Regions from separate parts of the Homo sapiens genome. Here all the other regions are linked to region 1. Evidence: fine-mapped expression QTL. A gene starts in region 1. Each other region holds a variant in brackets. All regions are shown on one strand. Distances are between the middles of the regions.

The links. PIP is the estimated chance that this variant, and not a neighbour inherited with it, causes the effect.
Region 2: its variant is the best candidate, but not a certain one, in a credible set for the expression of MERTK in fibroblasts (GTEx, PIP 0.86).
Region 3: its variant is the best candidate, but not a certain one, in a credible set for the expression of MERTK in whole blood (INTERVAL, PIP 0.63).
Region 4: its variant is the best candidate, but not a certain one, in a credible set for the expression of MERTK in left ventricle (GTEx, PIP 0.77).
Region 5: its variant is the best candidate, but not a certain one, in a credible set for the expression of MERTK in monocytes (Fairfax 2014, PIP 0.83).

What each region holds. Positions count from the first base shown.
Region 1 is chr2:111,896,398-111,900,515 of GRCh38, forward strand. It overlaps MERTK (MER proto-oncogene, tyrosine kinase), which reads left to right and starts at 2,210. Exons shown (of 19, transcript NM_006343.3): 1 at 2,210-2,399. The coding sequence starts at 2,339. RefSeq lists an enhancer at 1,349-1,678.
Region 2 is chr2:112,030,230-112,034,347 of GRCh38, forward strand. No RefSeq gene overlaps it. Among named protein-coding and RNA genes, the nearest start is that of TMEM87B, 23 kb to the right of the region's middle. The variant A/G (reference allele first, on the strand shown) is at 1,575.
Region 3 is chr2:112,058,477-112,062,594 of GRCh38, forward strand. TMEM87B (transmembrane protein 87B) reads left to right here. Exons shown (of 19, transcript NM_032824.3): 2 at 1,501-1,561. Among named protein-coding and RNA genes, the nearest start is that of TMEM87B, 5.3 kb to the left of the region's middle. RefSeq lists a silencer at 2,098-2,312. The variant C/A (reference allele first, on the strand shown) is at 1,676.
Region 4 is chr2:111,919,714-111,923,831 of GRCh38, forward strand. All of the region lies in intron 1 of MERTK (MER proto-oncogene, tyrosine kinase), which reads left to right. Among named protein-coding and RNA genes, the nearest start is that of MERTK, 23 kb to the left of the region's middle. The variant T/G (reference allele first, on the strand shown) is at 2,015.
Region 5 is chr2:111,958,218-111,962,335 of GRCh38, forward strand. All of the region lies in intron 4 of MERTK (MER proto-oncogene, tyrosine kinase), which reads left to right. Among named protein-coding and RNA genes, the nearest start is that of MERTK, 62 kb to the left of the region's middle. The variant CA/C (reference allele first, on the strand shown) is at 2,263.

The DNA of each region.
Region 1 (4,118 bases):
ACATAATCTCTGTCACAATTACCAACATGAATGACTGTGTTTCGATAACGATTATTTGCAAAAAGAAGCCATAGGCCTGCAGGTTATAATTTACTTTACATGATTCTAATCCCCAACCATTTGAGCCTAAGGTCCCAGGCAGATATGGAGGAGCAAGGACAACCTATTTCCCCTGTGCTCTGTCCAAACCTCCGATCCACAGAATTCAGGAATCTAATAAAATGGCTGACATTTTACTCCCACTATGTTTGGGGTGGTATATCAAACACCGGTAGATAGCTGAAGAGTATTGTACAAGGCAGGCCTCAACAAGAAAGTGAGATTTGAGCTGACTTGGAGGAGAGCCAACTGGGAAGCTGTGTGTCTAGGGGAAGAGCATTTCAGGCAGAGAGAACAGCCAGTGCAAACCTTTGGGCGGAGGAGTGCTTGGTATATGTGAGCAATAGCAAGGAAATTGCAGGAGAACAGCTCTGCCGAGGTGTCCTTGGCAATCTTGCACATCTCTCGAGGCCATGTAGGCAAGGTATGACCACGGTCTGACCCAAGTCTTGTTGGACTGCCCTGTGATTTCCCCTAAAGCAGGGATGGGTAAGCCTGGTGAGGAGCCACTGGTAGGCAGTTTCCTATCCCTACCCCATGGGAGACTGCTGCAAGGCCATTTCTCTTCCTTCTCCAACGTTTCAGTTGACTGCAGGACTTTCCATATCCCTCCCTCCACCGCCCAGCCCGCTTCCCTCCAAGCATACAGCGGCAGGCTCCTGTGAAGTCTATAAAACTGCTTGGTGTAATTTAGACTTGGCTACTCAGCGGCAGGGCTCATGTTGTCTTATTTATTTATTTATTTATTTATTTATTTTTGTTAAATTATGTAGACCCATAGGATAACACTGACCCTTCCAGTTTGGTGTTATCTTGTAGGCCTAAGGATGCATGGAGCTGACACCACACTGATTTTGCTTTTGCTGTCGGTGTAAGTAATAACCTGTCTAAACCCATCTGGGCTGCCTGTCTCCTTCCCGTAGCCAAATCTACGGGAAGTGTCCAGCCAGTGTAGGGGTCAAGGGACCGCTTGACGAGACCAACGTAAATTGAAGAGGCGTAAGGAGATGAGGCCAAAGAGGAAAGGGGACCAGGTCACGTAGAACCTCGTAGACCACTGCAGAACCTTGGCTTACGTACGCAGAGACAGCAGGAACCACTGATAGGTTTAGGGAGATTTGAGGAGAGGGACATGATTTGGCTTATGTTATGTTGTTAAAGGGACCACATTAAAATACATTCATTCTAAAAGTGTTACCTTTAAGAAACTACGTATATAAATTAAGTTACTGTTGCCATTATTAGCGTAAGTAGTTACATTTCTCTTACGACTCACTCTCTGCTACTGCCTCTTGGACCCTGCACACCTTGTGGAGGCCCATGAGAGTGACGTGCTGTGGTTCCCCCTCTCCCCACTCCTGCTCTGCACTTTGTCATTCACGTTCATCTCCCTCCTTGAGTGTCACCTCTCTCTGGCTCGTCACGGAGCCACGGCAAAGCGTCCTTTCCCAGGAACCCCTCCCCCTGGGGAGGTGAGCTCCTCGCCGCCAGGGCCGTGTCGCGCACCTCGGGCCGGGTACCCAGGCGGCGCTCGGCGGCGAGCGGAATGGATGTGGAGGAGCGCTCGGCAGGGAGCGCTGCCGCCCTGGCCTTGGCCTCTGGGAGCGGCGCGGCCAGGGTTTTCTGTGTCAGCCAAGCCCGGAATGCGGGGGCGCCTCTGGACCCTCCTCTTGGGTCTGGGGGCTGCCTCGGGCATCCTCTACTCCTCTCCCACCTTCTGTCCTTCCCCATCTCCCACCCACACGTGTGGGGCCCCGGACCCGCGCAGCGGCCAGAGCCTTCCGCTGTGGACCTCCAGTCCACCCCTCCCCTTCACTTCTCTTTCCGGCTCCCTCCGGGTCTCTCAGCCCCCTCCCCTTCCTCTCCGCCCCCTTCCCCGCCGTCTGCCCAGCGGCGGCCTTCGGCCCGCCCCTTCTCTCCAACCCCCTCCCTTTCCCCTTTACGCCCCTCCTCCCCCTCGTCCTCCCGCCCCCTCCCACCCCAACCTGCTGGGCCCGCCGGGACTCGCCCCCCTGCCCGCTCCTCTCCTCCAGCCCCGGCCGGCCTCGGCTCGGCCCCCGGCCCGCCCCTTCCAGCCCTCGGCACCTCCCGCCGGCCGCTTGGCTCCGCCACTCGGCACTCACTGCCCGGGCCGCCCGGACAGGGAGCTTCGCTGGCGCGCTTGGCCGGCGACAGGACAGGTTCGGGACGTCCATCTGTCCATCCGTCCGGAGAGAAATTACAGATCCGCAGCCCCGGGATGGGGCCGGCCCCGCTGCCGCTGCTGCTGGGCCTCTTCCTCCCCGCGCTCTGGCGTAGAGGTGAGTGCGCCCGGCTGGGGGCCAGGCGAGGGGGTGGGGGCTCCCAGGAGGAAGCAGGGGCCTCTGGGGAGGGAGCGCGTCCACAGGGGCGCGCCTGGCTGCTGGACAAGTTTGCAAACACCCTCCACCCACTGCGGTGCCAGAGGAGGGGGCGTAGGCGAACCTACCGTCCACTGACCGCGGCGCCTCAAGCGTCCCGAGGGCACCCAGCCTGGCTTGCGGGTGCGCATCGTGGTGAAGCCGGGTCGGGGTCGGCGTTGCAGGCTCCCCTCTTCACCGCAGAGGAGGAAATCGAGCTCGGCCGGGCGCGCTGCAAGTCCTGAAGTTCCGACGAGTGGAACGTAGGTAGCAGGTCTGGTCTGGGATGCGACGAGAACTTTCCACTAGAGTTGCATGGTGGGGCCCCGCTCTGGCCGGAGTCCCGGGGGCCACAGATCCGGTCTCCCGAGGGACCGGCGCGGGGCGAACGAACGGGCTGCGGGAGTCGGAGCCGCAGTCCGGGAGCCGCGATAGACTGAGGCCGAGCGACGGGCCAGGGGGGGACGGCAGTCCTGGCTGCTCCCAATGGGCCCTTACGGGCATTATTAGTATCCCTTTTTAGGGGCACCCAGAGAGTGTGGGAAAAGGGGAGCGTTCTTTTCACTCCTGTTATGGCAGAACAGAACTTACAGTGCTCGGCAGCGTTTACGTTTATCTGGATTCAGCGAAGTGTTGTTACAGGCTTTTTTTTTTTTAATTTGAGACCGAGTCTCGCCCTGTCGCCCAGGCTGGAGTGCCGCGGCGCGATCTCGGCTCACTGCAGGCTCCGCCTCCCGGGTTCAAGCGATTCTCCTGCCTCAGCCTCCCGAGTAGCTGAGACTATAGACGCGCGCTACCACGTCCGGCTAATTTTTGTATTTTTAGTAGAGACGGGGTTTCACCATGTTGGCCAGGATGGTCTCGATCTCTTGACCTCGTGATCTGCTCTCCTTGGCCTCCCAAAGTTCTGGGATTACAGTCGTGAGCCACCGCGCCCGGCTTGTTCCAGGCATTTTAATACAAGATGCTGGACTGATACGTGGAGGCAAGGAAGGCCGGTTTCATTCTGCTTGAACAGCTTATTTGGGGAGTGAGTGATGAACAGATTTCAAGTTTGATCGCTGATGCACTTCTTGAGGAGGCTGGAATAAACTTACCAGGCTTTACCCAAAAGAAAAAGAAAGGGGAAAAATGCTAAATAAACACATTCCAAGTATTTTCTCTCAGCTAAAAGGTTTCTATTTCCATTCAGCATGTAGATTTTCTCTCTTTTGATCGAGAATGCACTTGACTAGCCTTCACCTATTACAGTCAAAGATGTTTTTTAGGAATACCTGGAAAGCTCAGTTTATAGTCAAGTAAGTTACTTAAAAGTTTTTCCTTTGAGATTTTCCTTTGAAAGCTCATTTACTCAAATGAAAAATTCTTAAACAGTGCACCCACTTTTTGCACGTTAAATTACATAAGCAATTTATAATTTGGGGCAACATAGCAATTTGAAACAAACTTTAAGAGCCAGGCAAAGAACTAAAGCAGTTCTGTTCTCCACTGCCCCTCCCTCCACCAAACCTTCAAAAATTCCTCAGCATTTCTGCCAGCCCCATTTTTCATAATCTGCTGCAAATCTGTTATTTGTTGCTACTAGTGAGGACTGGCCGTGAATAGTCTTGGAGGTAGTGAATGTGGTGAGAACTATGGAGA
Region 2 (4,118 bases), 130 kb after region 1:
ATACCAAATCATTCATGAGAAATCCACCCCCATGATCCAATCACCTCCCTCCAGACCCCACCTTCAACGCTGGAGATTACAACTGAACAAGAAGTTTGGGTGGGGACACAGATCAAAACCATATTAGAAATCTACTCCAGAGCTTCTCAACATTTTTACTTTATTTAATAAACATATATCTCTTACTCTGTGCCAGGCATGGCACTCATTTAATTTTCATAACGACACTACCAGATAGGTACTACTATTATCTCCACTTCACAGATGGGCAGACTGAGGCAGGAAGAGCCTAACTTATGCTGCTAGTAAGGGCAGCAGAATTATGCAGTCAGTTGAATTGTTGATTTCCCAGCCTTCGGGGCAGCTGAGCAGGCCCAGAGCCACTGGCATCTTCAGGCCTGTTTACTCCCCACCAGTAAGCAGCCTCGCCTAGGCCTCTCCCACAGTCTTCAAGAATCAGAATCTACATGGGGTCCAACAGTGTGGCTCTCACCCAGGTTCTGGTCCCAGCTGCCCACCCAGGCACCCAATCTCCAGGGTGAGCCGGCTCCTCTGTTACTGTGAAATGCTCCATATGAAAAAGTTCTGGCCAGATGTGGGGATTCACAACTGTAATCCCAACACTTCAGGAGGCAAGGCAGGAGGATCACTTGAGCTCAGGAGTTCAAGACCAGCCTGGACGACATAGTGAGACCCTATATCTACAAGAAAAAATTAGCCAGAAATGGTGGTGTGTGCCTGTAGTCCTAGCTACTCTGGAGGCTGAGGCAGGAGGATCACTTGAGCCCAGGAGTTTGAGGTTACAATGAGCTGTGATTGTGCCACTGCACTCTAGCCTGGGTGACAGAGGGAGACTGTGTCTCTAAAAATTAAAAAAAAAAGTTCTGAGGGTTTGAAAAGAATCTGTAAAATGCCACCATTACATTTTATTCGTGAAAGAAAAAAAGCTGTAGCTCCTATAAAGATAACTTACACTGTTGAAAATTTTTGGTCATTAAAAAATAAAAAAATTTATCACCTACTTGTATAAACAGTTTCTTATCGATGGTAAGTAGCAGGAAGTTGAAGAACTGATCATTAAAGTCTTGATCAGAACCTGATGGTGACTAGTTCAAACAAAAAAAACCCACCCCAAAATAGAAAGGTATGCTCATATCTATGAGCAAAATAAGTAATTATAAACATTGAAAAATGTTATTTGGAAGTTTAATATAAACTTAATATTAAATATCTATGCTCATATACAGTACTTTGTATTTTATATTTCTAATTTTAACAGCATAATGTAAAAAATGTACAATGAATAGTTCATCAAACACCCCACAGCCCTCTAAATCCTGTCCAGTATCTTCTGTGTGGTCTGAGCAGGGCTGGGGAGCCCGGGCCAGTTCTGCCGCAGGAGAGTGTAGAAAGCTGAGCCAGCTGTGGCTTCTGGCTTTTCTTGAGACATCAAGAAACGTAGCAGAGAAATTCACTTCAGCACACAGCGTGATGCACCCAAGTGTTGGTTAAAAGTGGTGTGATGAATGAGAATGAAGCTGGGCTACCATTGTTCTTCACATTTAAATCTCCGC[A/G]CTGAGAATGTTGGTGTTCTTCTTAGCCACATCTGAATATTTGAAAATTTGGAAAGAACTAACTTTCAGATGATCCAGTCATTGGCAAACTCTCATACTGTCTTCTGAGCATAAACTGAAAACAGCGTTTCAAATTCTCTTTCATAGAAACTCAAATTACTTTTGTAAGTGGCTCTTGTAGGCAAAAAAAAGGGAGAGAGGAAACAGGAAGAAACAAGTCGGGTTAATTGTCTTAACCGTGCTGGGGCTCAGGATCAGGAGGTCGAAAGGACAAGGAAACAGACATATGCCAGAAGCACTCGTGACTGGCACGTTGAGACTTGCCCTCCCTTGTGAGGATTTTCTTTCTTTTGTGTTGTTTTTTTTTTCCTTTCTGTTGCTTTTCTTAATGAGTAGAAATGAGAATCAAGCGTCAGGGCAACTCTTGGAAAACAAAAAAAAAAAGACACCAAAGCACTCTTCATGGTGAGCCAGGCCATATGGTCAGAGGTGGGCTGGATAGGAGCTCACCCTGCCAGATGTCCTTGGGCAATCGTGGGCAGGTCACTTGACTTTCCTTGAGCCCCAGTTTTCTCAAGTGTTCAGTAAACATACCAATGCCTTTTTCTGCAACACCCTGTGTAAGAAGGGGAGGAGGCAAGGTCTTCGAAAGAATATTATACTCACAAGAGGCTGTTCTCAATTTGTGGCATCATTCCTTATGCAGTGCAAACCCAGCAACATTTGTCATATTCAAAATATTTTCAGCCAGGCGTGGTGGCTCACGCCTGTAATCCCAACACTTTTGATGGCCGAGGAGAGAGGATTGCTTGAACCTAGTAGTTCAAGACCAGCCTGGGCAACATAGGGAGACCCTGTCTCTATAAAAAATAAAAAAGAAATTAGCCAGGGATGGTGGCATGCAATTGTGGTCCCAGCTGCTCAGGAAGCTGAGGTGGGAGGATCACTTGAGCCTCAAAGCTCAAGGCTGCACTGGGCTGTAATCACACCATGGCACTCTAGATGGGGCAACAGAGCAAGACTCCATCTCAAAAAAAAAAAGAAAAAGAAACATTTTCCCTGATTGTTTCATCAACTCCCTCCAAAATAAACACAGTCATTCATAATTTGAAAAGAGAAAGAGATAGTATTTCGCCTTAGCCAGAAACGCACAGTTGGGGAAGTTCAGAGTGAAGGAGGAGGCCCTCAGTCCTCACCTCAAACAGCCACTGGGCTCAGGAGCTGGAACTACCTTCCTCTTGTCTATCCTGGGGTTTAGCTACTGATGATACAAGCCTCATTGCGCCTCTCCCCAATATGTGGGTTATGACAAGCAATGGTGGCTTGCTTTACCAGGAGCATTTGGGGACATGTGGTGGGTCAGAATGCTATCCCAGGAAGGGGATATTCCCTCTCTGCCTCCATGTCTGCCAGACCTAGCAGAGGTTCCCCACCTGGGAAATGGGCCAAACCACAGTCTCTTCTTTTACAGAGCAGGCTGATTCTAGCCAGACCAGTTCTGATTCATGAAAGTCAAGACTTTTGTAACTTTTCCTGGTCAATGGCAAAAGCAAGTTGGAACTTCTGCTGAGTCCGTGGGAAAGTAACTGACCCAATAATAAACTAGCTACAACAGCAACTTAACTTCTCTAAAGATGTTTAGTAACTGAGTGACAAATGAGAAAATGGGAAGTTTTGTTTTCTTTAATAAATGTTTCAATGATGCACAATGTTCCTATCCTTAGATTTTATTTTCTTTCTTTTAAAGCTCTAAGTGAGAATAGCAGCAAAACTCCCATTCTATTTAACTTTAAAAGGCATATATAATTACTTAATTTTTTGTTATTTAAATGCAATAATTCTGGGCATGGTGGCTCATGCCTGTAATATCAGCACTTTGGAAGGCAGAGGTGGGAGGATTGCTTGAGCCCAGGAGTTCAAGACCAGTCTGGGCAACATGGTGCAATCCCATCTCTACAAAAAACACAAAAATTAGCTGGGCATGGTGCCACATGCCTGCAGTCTCAGCAACTTCAGAGGCTGAGGTGGGAGGATCACTTGAGCCACAGAGGTCGAGGCAGCAGTGAGTCATAATCATGCCACTGCACTTCAGCCTGGGCAACAGAGACCCTGTCTCAAAATAAATAAATGTAATAATTACTTCTAGAAACTGTAACCTGTGGACCACTATTTTAGAATATTTTTACATACAATCTCTCTTATTTAAATGGGATTCCATGGATAGATATATGAAAGAGAAACCAGAGAATTATATCTATTAACTCTTTCTATTCCTTAAGGACATGATAACTGTTAATTAATAGATTTATTGAGACTATACACTTAAACATTCTAATGAAGAAAGTGTTTTCGAACAACAATCATATGAGGTCACCTATAACCCACTCATCCATTTGCAAATATTCACTGAGAGGAAGGCCCTGTTCTGGGCATTGGGATCTTGCAAAGAAAGGCAGTCTAGGCCTTATCACTTCTTGGCCTTTTGGCTAAGATCAAGTGTAGAAAGGCAGTCTAGTCCTTGCTGTCTTGAATAACAGTCCAAAG
Region 3 (4,118 bases), 160 kb after region 1:
AGAGTGGGCACAGAATTGCCACAGCTCGTTTTTTTAAGTGAGACTGGAATCCATCTTTTTATTATGTCAACTAAAGTTTTAAAAAGGCCTCTTGTGGGCCCAGTATATCCCATTTTTAGGTTGGATTAGACCTCCAGACTCCCAGTAGCTACTTTAGGATGTGAATGAGGGAGCCATTGAAAGATCTTAGACATAATGCTAATCACTATGGCTGCTGTCTAAAGATGAATTATAGGATCAGATCTGGAGGTAGAAGTACCAGTTAAGCTATTGCAGAAATTAGGCAGGAAATGCAGAGGGCCTAAATTAGGGCAGTGGTGACAGAGATGGAGAGGAAGAACTAAATTTGATAAATGTTTGTGAGATAAAGTAGGCATGCCTTGGGGATTGGGTGATGGAAGTGGGGAACTGGAAGGAGCCATGGCTTGGGTGACTGTAGATGGTACCACCTCCAGCCAAGGTGGACAATGTAGGAAAAGTTGGTGAGCAGAGAGGAGTGTGTCTGGTTTAAAACAGGTTTGTCTGTTGGACATCTGTCAGTGGACATGTCCTTTAGGCAGTTGGGTATTTGGATCTGGAGCTCAAAGGAAGGATCCAAGTTGGGAATTTTATTGTTGTTGTTGAAACTCTGTTGGGGAAGGGAAGAGGTTACCACTTGTCCTATCAGTGTTTTTTGTTTTGTTTTGTTTTGTTTTTAATGCCTAATCATTTGTACATTTAACACAGTCTCTAACTGCAGGATTTTTATTCCTGAGAAGACATTAAACAACTAATCAATTATTTGATTTAAATTGTGGAAAGGTTGTGAAGAAGAAAGGGTGCTAGGGATTATATAAGGGAGGGCCTGGCCGGATATGGGCCACAGTGGAAGAATTCCTGCAGAACGGGCTTTTGAGCTGGGCTTTGAAGGGTGAGAAGGAGCCAACTAGATGAACAAAGGGTGAAAGGAAGGATTTTAAAGTAAATTTTTCAGGTTGACCACTAATCCTGAGGGCAGGAAAGAATATCATGCTTTTCTGGAACTGGAAAGTTGAGAGGTGGGCAGGACTTGATTATTCACGTCCTATAGGCTACAGTAAGAATTTCGGTCTGTTGTAATTGCATTGGTAAACCATAACGACTTGGAGCTGGGAGAGGGGGACAGTTCCTTATCAAAAGTACATTCAAATTGACGCCAGGAGAGCAACATGCAAATGCAGTCAGTTCATGTCACGTCTGAGCAGCACTAATCCTGCAATGGCAGCATCTTTTACCTCTTATGTGTCACTGGCCCTAACTGAGTCTGCTAGAGGCCAGAGCCCTCCTGATCCTCAGGGTAACTGCAGGAAGTAGAACCATGACAAGGTTTTAAGCAAGTTAGTGATGTGATCAGATTTACGTTAAAAAAATACTCTTGTCAGAGAGAGGAGTGCAAGGCTTAGAACTCTATATGTTGTGGGGTAAAACAGTTGCAAAAAAAACTTTCTAACAAGATCTTCCTGTGTTTGTTTTTCATTTTAGAAATCAGGACCTTTGATATTTAGGAAAACTATGTTTAACTCTACAGATATCAAGTTATCTGGTAAGTATAATAAAACAATAAAATACTAGACTGGGCGCAATGGCTCACGCCTGTAATCCCGGCACTTTGGGAGGCCGAGGCAGGTGGATCACAAGGTCGGGAGTTCAGGACGAG[C/A]CTGGCCAACATAGTGAAACCCCGTCTCTACTAAAAATACAAAAAAAGTTAGCTGGGCATGGTGGTGGGCACCTGTAGTCCCAGCTACTTGGGAGGCTGAGGCAGGAGAATCACTTGAACCCGGGAGGCAGAGCTTGCAGTGAGCCGAGATCGCGCCACTGCACTCCAGCCTGGGCGACACAGTGAGACTCTGTCTCAAAAACAAACAAACAAGAATAATGAAATACTAATATATATATAAACAACATAATATAAACAAATACATTCATGTAAATGAATATAACATATATAATAAACTAAGCAAATGTTTTGTTTTTAAGTAGTTCTAACATTTTAAGGTTTTGTTTTGTTTCAGTCAGCACTTGGTTATTTACAAGAATGGATTTTTCTTTTTTTTTTTCTTGAGACAGAGTCTTTCTCTGTCACCCAGGCTGGAGTGCAGTGGCAAGATCTCGGATGACTGCAACCTCCGCCTCTCAGGTTCAAGTGATTCTCCTGCCTCAGCCTCCCTAGTAGCTGAGATTACAGGCGAACGCCACCACGCCCAGCTAATTTTTGTATTTTTAGTAAAGATGGGGTTTCACCATGTTGGCCAGGCTGGCCTCCAACTCTTGACCCCAGGTGATCCACCCACCTCAGCCTCCCAAAGTGCTGGGATTACAGGCATGAGCCACTGTGCATGGCCCACAAGAATGGATTTTTCTGATCTTCTTTCAGAAAATGTAATGTGAATCATTTTATGAAAATTATAATTAAAGTCTAATAGACGAACAAAAAAAATTTGTTTTTTGTGAAATTTAACTTTGAGTCTCAGATTTTTAAAACTAGATAAATTGCTTTTACGAATATATGAAATGTCATGATTGTGATAAACCCTTTATGGCCTTGAAAATTTTCAAAACGTACATATCCTCGTAAGAAGTAAAAATTGCTGGACAACATTTTAATTAGAGTTTTAAGGTTGATAAAAGTTAAAATATTCATTAGGTAGGGCCTGTCTTTTCTGTGTCAATACTGAGATACCAGAACTACCAAGGTTTTTTAAGAATTTCACTGGATTTTCATTGGATCGTATTCATTGTGGCCCAATTCCTCTTATTGTTTCCAGTAACCTAACTAGGAAAATTGGTTGCCAGAGTTAAAGTCTCAGGATAAGGAGCAGTTTTTTGCTGGGTAGAGCAAACTGGCTTCTACAGGATCCAAAGTCATGCCTCTTTCCTTTCACACAACAGATCATGCTCTGCTCATTTGTTGGGGGCAATTCTTCCTTTTATGGGTCTTTCCTGAGGGAAGTCAGGCTAGCCAGCAGCTAGAAAGCAGAGGTGGTTTCAAGCAGCTCTGTAATATCAATCATCAGTTGTGATAAGAGCTTGGTAAGAGGAAATTGAAGTCCAAGGTGAGAGAGAAAAAAATTTTGGCATCTGTTTATTTAATGAATTCATGTCTCAAAGTCTAGACAAAGGATTTAAAAGAATCTCAGTCTGGTGCTGACAAAAAGTTATATGGAAAAAAAAGTAACGTCAGCCACTGAAACAGAATTTGATTTTTAAAAATCATTACAAATGCCTGAGATCAACATATGAGTAGACTACAATCAAGACGTTGTTATTAACTTATCTAAAGAAAGAATGGGACAGCATGAGGGATTTAAGAGCAAAAGCATAATAAAACTAGGGTTTAGTCAGGCAAATGCTGGTCATGTCCAACAGCATTGTTGGGGGAGAGGTTTTCTTGAACCATGACCACAGCTATGACATGGGGCTGGCAGTTGTGGATATAGCATCCACCTGAGCCTCCTTGGTCTGGTGCCATGCTCACCAAACCACCTTCTCATCCGTATTGGGCCTCCAGGGAGGCATGCTGAAGGGAAAGAGTTGATCATTACTAGTCCAGTTTACGGTTTCTGTTCATTGTAAGTGAGTAATTGAGTATTCTAATTTATACATCTACATGGTAATCATGAAAGTGAGTAATTGAGCATTCTAATGTACACATCTACCATTGGGAAAGGGTGAGATGAGAATCTGTGTTTTCACAGAGCCAGATTTTAGTGCTTGTTAAGCTAAGGACTGGTCCCTTGGATATATGTCGATGCTGTTTGGGAGATCAGATATCTGGCTTTTTTAAGGCAACCTCTCTTCTGCTGTCTCATTCAAGTCATGTGGAGCCTGTGCTAAAAAATATCTCAATGTAATTCACCATATTAACAGAATATAAGAAATGAACCATATGATCATCTCAAAGTATACAGAAAGAGCATTTGAAAAAAATTCAACACCCATTCATGATAGAAACTCAAAGAAAGTTAGAAATAGAAGGAAACTTCCTCAACCTGATAAAAGGCATCTATGAAAAATCTGTAGCAAACATCATACTGTCAGTTCTTCCCAGATTGATCTATAAGTTCAGTTTAATCCCAGCCAAAATCCAAGCAGGCTTTTTG
Region 4 (4,118 bases), 23 kb after region 1:
CTTGCCCTGCTAACATGTGTGTTCAAGGCCAAGCAGAGAGGTACCTCTGCTCATTTTGTTTTTTGATGTTTTTTCTTTTTCTTTTCTTTTTTTTTTTTTTTTTGAGCCAAAAGGAATGTATTGGGCCAGGGGCAGTAGGAAGGTCACCCCACTGATAAGCAAGCCCCTTGTGCTTTTGCTCAGATGTCTCAGCCCCTTCATGCTGCAAGCCTTGGTTCAGAGAGGTTGGATAGCTTTCCTGGTGTGCCAGGTCCCTGTTTGCCCCTCCAGACCCACTCTCCATGCTGCTCTAAGCCCCAAGAAGCAGCCTGTGGGAAGGGCAACAATGAAATCCCTAGTGCTGTGGCTCCAGCTGGTTTTGACTAAATGATACTAAGTTATATTTGTTCCTCTAAGTAAATCCGGGGTGTTCCCATATTGGTTGCTTATCTGAAATTCAGGTGTAAAGGGCTGTACTGTTTTTTATCTGGCAACCCAATGCCAACACCGTGTTTTACAGGCAACTTCACGTTCCTTCCACCGTGCAGGCATTTCTGGGCTTTCACTGGCACTTGGGCTTTTCTCCTCCTGTGGCTGGGCTGTGACCTCTTGGGGCACACACTGCCCAGCCATTTACTTCCTTTCCTTCCTGCAAGCGCCAGGCCTGTTCTCTCCAGCACTGACTCAGAGCCAGCCACCCGCTTTCTCTTGCAGGGCTTTGCTACACTTAGGGCAAATGGGTGGCGTGATCGCCTCTTCCTCCTTTAACATTCTCCAAGTGGCCCAAGGGTCACTCCAGTGAAGTTAATAATTACCATTTGCAATTTAGGACTGATCCATCAGGTCAAGTGAGTTCTGATTGAAGGTTGTTTTTTTTTTTTCTTTTTCTTCTAATGAAGTGTTGCTACTCTGTTTGTTTGTTTTTCTTCTAATGAAGTGTTGCTACTCTTTATTTTATTTATTTATTTATTTATTTTCCGAAACAGAGTCTCACTGTGTTGCCTACGCTGGAGTGCAGTGGCGTGATCTCAGCTCACTGCAACTTCTGCCTCCCGGGTTCAAGCAATTCTCCCTGCCTCACCCTCCCGAGTAGCTGGGATTACAGGCGCCTGCCACCAGGCCTGGCTACTTTTTGTATTTTTTAGTAGAGACAGGGTTTTGCCATGTTGGCCAGGCTGGTCTTGAACTCCTGACCTCAGGTGATCTGCCCGCCTCGGCCTCCCAAAGTGCTGGGATTACAGGCGTGAGCCACTGCGACTGGCCACTACACTTTATCAATCAGGAATCCTTTGGGTATTGCATAAATAGTACTAAGTAGAAAATTTCCTTTTGTGCTATGTTTGGCCTCAGCTAGCTGTGGGGGTAAAGGGAGTGGGGTGGGAGTCCTTAACCTGGGTGACAGGGCAGCTGCTCAGGACATGATTCAAATATCAGCCTGGTGTGTGCACACAGAATGTGGGGTGGGGGCACTGGTCTAGGTTCTGCGTTTTCTCCTAGAGAGGGTAGGGAAACAGGGATACCAGCATTTACAGGATTCCAGATGCAAAAGCCTTTCTCTGAACTTTGGGAGGTGAAGGCGGGCAGATCACCTGAGGTTAGGAGTTCGACACCAGCCTGACCAACATGGTGAAACTCGGTCTTTACTAAAAATACAAAAATTAGCTGGGCATGGTGGTACCTGCCTGTAGTCCCTGCTACTCAGGAGGCTGAGGCAGGAGAATTGCTTGAACCCTGGAGGCGAGGTTTGCAGTGAGCTGAGATCACACCACTGCACTCCAGCCTGGGCTGTGACAGACTAAGACGCGATCTCAAAAAAAAAAAAAAAGCCTTTCTCTAAATCACAAACCCACCTGCAGAAGGGCTGTAGGGCTGTTTGATAGCAAATACCTTCAGCAGACAGCAAGACTGGTGAGGAAACAGCATACCTCTGGAATAAGGTGCATCCTCTTGGCCATGCATTTATGTGCCATATGTTCATGTGTGCTTGAGTTGGGAAGCAAAGAACCTCTAGGAACTGAAAGATAAGCCCTCACTC[T/G]TTTGCAGCCTCCTCTGGGCCTCGTTTTTCTTTTATTTCTATTTTTGGTAGAGACTTGTCTCACTCTGTTGCCCAGGCTGATCTTGAACTCCTGGGCTCAAGCAATCCTCCCGCTTCGGCCTCCCAAAGTGCTGGGAGCCACCACGCCTAGCCTGGGCCTCTTGAGTTTGAGGCTGAACTTTAGAGAGCTCAGCTGATGCTTCTGCCCATTTTATTGTTGGGGAAGGAATAGAAAGAGCAGGAGTAATGGGTCCCACAGGCTGGCACTCACTCCTGCCATTACTGTAACTCTGGTAGAGGAGCTATTCCTCTCTCTTCCCAGGTGCCTGGGATCATAAAGCAGGCTGATGGCACACAGCATCCTGGGGTAGCTGGGGTGGGGTGGAACTGAACAGGGTTCACCAGCCAGCACCCTCAGTCCCACAGGGCTGCCACCTGCCCTGCTCAACCCTCTTCCCACAGCATGGAGGGACTCCAGGGCCAGGGAGGCTGCTTGCTGCCACATCCCCACCCACTATCATGGGACCTGCAATTTCAGTTGCTGCTGCTTTCTTTAGTCACCTCGGTGATCACCTTGGGCTGTGATCACCAAGCTTCAAGAAAATCAAAGGAGCTCATGTTAGGAAAGGCTGGTGGAGACCATCCCTGGAGAGATTGAGAGATGCCTTAGAGCTAAGAGCCCTTCGCATCCCAAGCCCGATGTATATTTTTTCCTCTCACTCATGGCTGGCAATTATATTACTCTAGTATTGCCCTTCCCCATGCATTGTCCAAGGCAGACATCACTAATTAAACTCAGCCCTTATCCCCGCAGGGCCCAGACCTGGCTTTAGAAATTCCTACTTTAGGTGGCCAGCAGGCCAGGGTTCAGATGCAAGCCAGTAACAGCCATGTCAGCCAATATTTTTGGAGTGTGCTGGTGGACTCGATGCCTATCAGCTCCTACTGCTGAGATCCTCTTGTCCTCACAAGAGTTCAAAGAAGTTATAGAGCTTTCCTGAGGCCATACCTTGAGGTGGTGAGGGACTGGGTGGGCCTCAGCCCTCTGACTGCAAAGCTGCTAGCTAACCTCTGAGCAGCACTGCCCACCAGCCCTTCTGCCTTTGCACACTGCATTTGACAAGTGCTCAGCAAGGATTCATGGATTTGAGGGTAGGATGCACTAGTTGATCACATGGAAAATAACATTCTTTACTGGCTTGCCCTAATGAACGAATTTTGAGTCTAAGAGACTATTCACAAAGTCCCTAAATGTCTGAGCCACTGTAATTGTGTGTCATAGGCATGCTGACAGCCTCTCCAAGTTCTGTCTCCAGCCACAGCAGTGTCCTTGCCTGGACCACCTCTCTTCCCTGCTCACCCTTCAGGACCTCTGCACGTCACACCCGTTTATTCTGTAAATGTTTGCTGCATGTGACTCCATGCCAATCATCATGATGGGTTCAGATGATGCCACCTCCAGCCTTCAAGGAAGTTACAGACAAGTATGTTCAGAAAAACAGGGCAAACTCACACAGAAAAATGGGCAGTATGTGAATAAACATTCACTAATCAGGTCCCTTGGGCCTGTCCTGTACTGGGTGCTGAAGAAAGATGATGGAGACAAAAGCCCTGACTTTAAGAAGCGGACGCTAGGGCTCTGGTCAAGGGCTGCATGGTGATTGGAAACACATGGGCACAGTGCAGGGGTGCTGCACCACACAAGTCCAGGACTGGATGGAGTGGCCCCTGGAGTTGGTAAATGCAGCTGCTGGAGCAGCTGGGCGGCTACTCTGGGACCTGAGTGGGAGGCTAGTGATCCAAGGCAGCTTAGCAGCACTCGTTTATGTGAAGTTAAAATTCCACTCCAGCTGTTTATCCAGTCCACATGAGGAAGCAATCCTGGAAGAAGGTGGGAGGGATAAGGTGGAGATTTCTTGTGAATTCCACCCAAATTACAACCAGAGGCACCCCACTTTTCCATGTGCTGTGTAGAAAGGACCACATTTGCATTAAGTCTTTGATGTGGGTAAGCCTTTCAGTCTGAATTCATCTGCAATCACTACCCAAAAATAATTTTGAGAGTATTCCACTTCTGTGGGGGAAAAACAGGGGGAAAAGATAC
Region 5 (4,118 bases), 62 kb after region 1:
TGGATGCTTTTTCTCCCTGGAAAGTCACAAGGGTTTGGGGCTGTAAATGTCAAGGTCTATTCCAGTCTGGTAGTTACTGTTCATCCACACAGAGAGAACTGGCGAGTGAGAGGGAGCTGTCTTCTCCTAGTGTACACTCATTGCTATGGTCAATCCAGGCTTATAAACGAGTGTCTAGTTGGGAAGCCAGTGCCATTAAGCCATTAAAGTTTAGCTGAAAAATTAAGCAAAGAAGACTATATTTGGCCCTAAGTGCTGTCTGGTTTTGGAGAAATTTACCTTTGGTTTGAACTAGTTTCCTCTTCTCTCTACTGGTATCTCTTTGGCCTATGGGCACCAACCACCTGACCTTGTACACTGTTTTAATACATTGTGTGGTTACTGCCAGGCAATTCAGACTTGGTGTAGGTGTCTTGTGCTAGGACATTTGCTATAGATTGTTTTTTTGACCTTGGGTGCACTATGAAAAGAAACACACAGGAGAAATGACTGTCCATTTGACCTGAAGTCATGTTCTGTGATAATGTTTCCCTTTCAGCATTAATAAACCTGTTAGGACTAAAGATCACTGGGCCTGAAATCTGCTACTATAGGATCCTACTATAGGTTCTATAACTGGATAATGGATCTCAGTGAAATAAACCTCCGGTTTTACCACAGGGCTGGCTCTTCCCCTTATGACAAGTTTGGAATGTAATTTTGTAGTTTGTATTCAAGGGTTTCCTAAGAGTTTTGATAATAATTGAAGTCAAATGACTAATTTTAAACTGCCAATGTCTCCTCCAATATATAAAAAAGGTAAGTTAGTAACTCCCTGTATCTTCTGATTGAGCCAAGGCCAATTTTTCTAAATATAAGCCAGGTTTTGCAAGTTCATGCAGCCTGGTGGTTGAAATGGGCATATCACTTGGGAGCTTAGGATCTGGAAGGTTAAAAGTGATGCCAAGGCATGAAAATCAAAGTGTTAAAGGCCTCACTGTGAAACAGTGATCAGCAGAGCATGGACCCCTTAGTGGGATCAGTGTCTCCATCCTCATCCTATATGTATCTTCTTTCTTAAAATCAATGCTTGACAACGTGCCCAAAGTCCAGTTACTTCGCCAGTTCTCCCTTTCCACCTCCCTATTTTCCTTTCATCTCTTCCTTGCATTACAAAAGAAAAAAGACCTCTCTTGCTTGTCTGGAATCACCACTATGAAGCATCAGTTCTCAATGCTTTGGTCTCAAGATCCTTCGTTTGTTTGTTTGTTTGTTTCTTTTTGGTTTTTTGTTTGTTTGTTTTTGTGTGTGTGTGACAGAGCCTGACTCTGTCGCCCAGCCTGGAGTGCTCACTGTAGCCTCAACCTCCTAGGCTCAGGTGATTCAGCCATCTCAACCTGCCAAGTAGCTGGGAATACAGGTGCATGTCACCATGCTCAGCTAATTTTTGTGTTTTTTGTAGAGATGGGGTTTCACCATGTTGCCCCAGGGTGGGGCAACTTCTGGACTTGAACTCTCGAACTTCTGGACTCAAGCAATCCTCCTGCCTCAGCCTCCTGTAGTGCTGGGATTACAGGAGTGAGCCCACTGTGCTTGGCCTCAAGATCCTTTTACAGTCATAAGTTATCAAGAACCAGAGTTCTTGTTTATGTGGGTCATATCTATCTATATTTACTGAATTAGAAATTAAAACTGAAAACTTTTAAAACACAAAAATACACAAGCATACACTTCATTGGCTAATACATCTATGCTATGGCATCATCATATATCATATAGCCTCTGGGAAATTCTTTTGGAAAATTCCATCATATATTCCTGAGATAATGAGAATTAAAAGAGCAAACAATATATTATTATTATGAAAATAGTTTTGACTCTGAGGACTACAGAAGGGGTCTCTGGAATCCCCAGAAGTCTCTTGACCATATTTTGAGAATGGTTGCTGTGGTGCATTGTCTTGGGGTTAAGAAATTTCCAGAGACAGAAAATTCCAAATTTTGGCTGGACGTGGTGGCTCACGCCTGTAATCCCAGCACTTTGGGAGGCTGAGGCAGGTGGATCACCTGAGGTCAGGAGTTCAAGACCAGCCTGGCCAACATGGTAAAACCCTGTCTCCATTAAAAATACAAAAATTAACCGGGCGTGGTGGTGCATGCCTGTAATCCCAGCTACTTGGGAGACTGAGGCAGGAGAATCGCTTGAACCTGGGAGGCGGAGGTTGCAGTGAGCCAAGATCATGCCATTGCCCTCCAGCCTGAGTGACAGAGCGAGTCTCAGTCT[CA/C]AAAAAAAAAAAAAAAAAAAAGAAAAGAAAATTCCAAATTTTGTCCAGCAAAGAAATTGCTCTTCCAATAAAGTTGTACTTATGTTTAAGAATCACTTACATTGTTTTGATTAATTGCATCCTAATAATGAGTATAATCAATTCAGAAGAAAATATTTTTGCAATTTCAAGGTATATATATGTTTTTGTTGCCAATAAGTTCCCATGGTTTAAGCAAAAACTTTCAAATGTGTACCATTAAGATGAAATTCTTGGGGCTGGTAGAAGAGTCATGGTGGAAAACTTGCTGCTGGGGAAGAGTCGTTACAGTGGGTGTTGGTGTCAAGATATTCAAGGTACCTCAAATTACATTTTTTGAAGATGTTTAAATTACGAAAAATTTAAGGATGCAAACTTCAAAATGTGTCAGAGTCCACGTATATTTTTCAAAATTCTCTAGGAGTAATACAAGCAGAAGATATAAAGACCCCGAGGCAGAGTATCACAGGGATCCTTTTATAGATGTGTGTGTAATGGGTGTGAGAGAAATATTCCTCCTCAGTGCAATAAATATTTTCTAATTCACTACACAAACTAGTAGCAGTTTCATGCCTCACTTGAGAAGAAGTGACCAAAATATGAAAGTAGATGGCTTCTACCAGGAGTTTTTGTTTCTTAGCACTTTAAATTTTCTTTCTTTTTTTTTTTTTTTTTTTTTTTGAGATGGAGTCTTGCTCTGTCGCCCAGGCTGGAGTGCAGTGGTGTGATCTCGGCTCACTGCAAGCTCCGCCTCCCAGGTTCAGCCATTCTCCTGCCTCAGCTTCCCGAGTAGCTGGGACTACAGGCGCCCGCCACAACGCCCGGCTAATTTTTTTGTATTTTTAGTAGAGACAGCGTTTCACAGTGTTATCCAGGATGGCCTCAATCTCCTGACCTCCGCCCGCCTCAGCCTCCCAAAGTGCTGGGATTACAGGCATGAGCCACCGCACCCGGCCGGCGTTTTAAATTTTCAAGAGAATTTAATTAAGCAATCCAGCTTAGGGTTTCCTCCCATCTGAGGGAAGTATTCCTCGTCTTTGAAAATTAAGATACTGTGAAGTAGCAGTCAAATCCTCTCCATAATACCATGTTATTTTTGAAGAAATGAAAGGTTACCACCGAATCATAGGACAGAGATGTATGGGTTTGCTTTTCCCTGAGGGACCCGTGTGTAGTCAGGGAAACGCAGACACTGGTGACAACCTTCCATCTAGATGGAAAATAACAAAAACCCACCAGCACTGATTTTCTTTTTTATGCACATTTAACCCCTCAGGAGAAGCACTAATATAAAAAGGATCAGACATGCATTTTTTCTACAGCGTCTCTCAGTCACAGCTCTCTGCCATGTAGTGACCACTTGGCTGCAGCCGGGGCGCAGTCGTGGCCATGCAGACATCCGACCAGGAACAGCTTTTCTAGGCTGATGCCTGCTGTGCTTCCCTCAGCAAGTTTTTTTCCCTTTCATTCTTCAAATATTTTATTACTGTTATTAGTGATAAGCTTTGAGTTTAAAAATATCTGATGGAAAATTTCCTACACATGTAGACAGAAGACACAAAATAAGCTTTTCTGCCAAGAAGCAAATGGTGGCATATTTTCAACAATTTTATGAAGATACTACTGTATGTCAGATGATGTTTCTGTGTGCCACAGATATAGAAGTTTCCAGATTCAACTACATAGTAAATACTTGTATAGTTGTAATTCTAAAAAATAACCATTCAGGTCGGGTGTGGTGGCTCACACCTGTAATCCTAGCGTTTTAGGAGGCCAAGGCAGGTGGATCACCTGAGGTCGGGAGTTCAGGACCAGCCTGGACAACATGGTGATACCC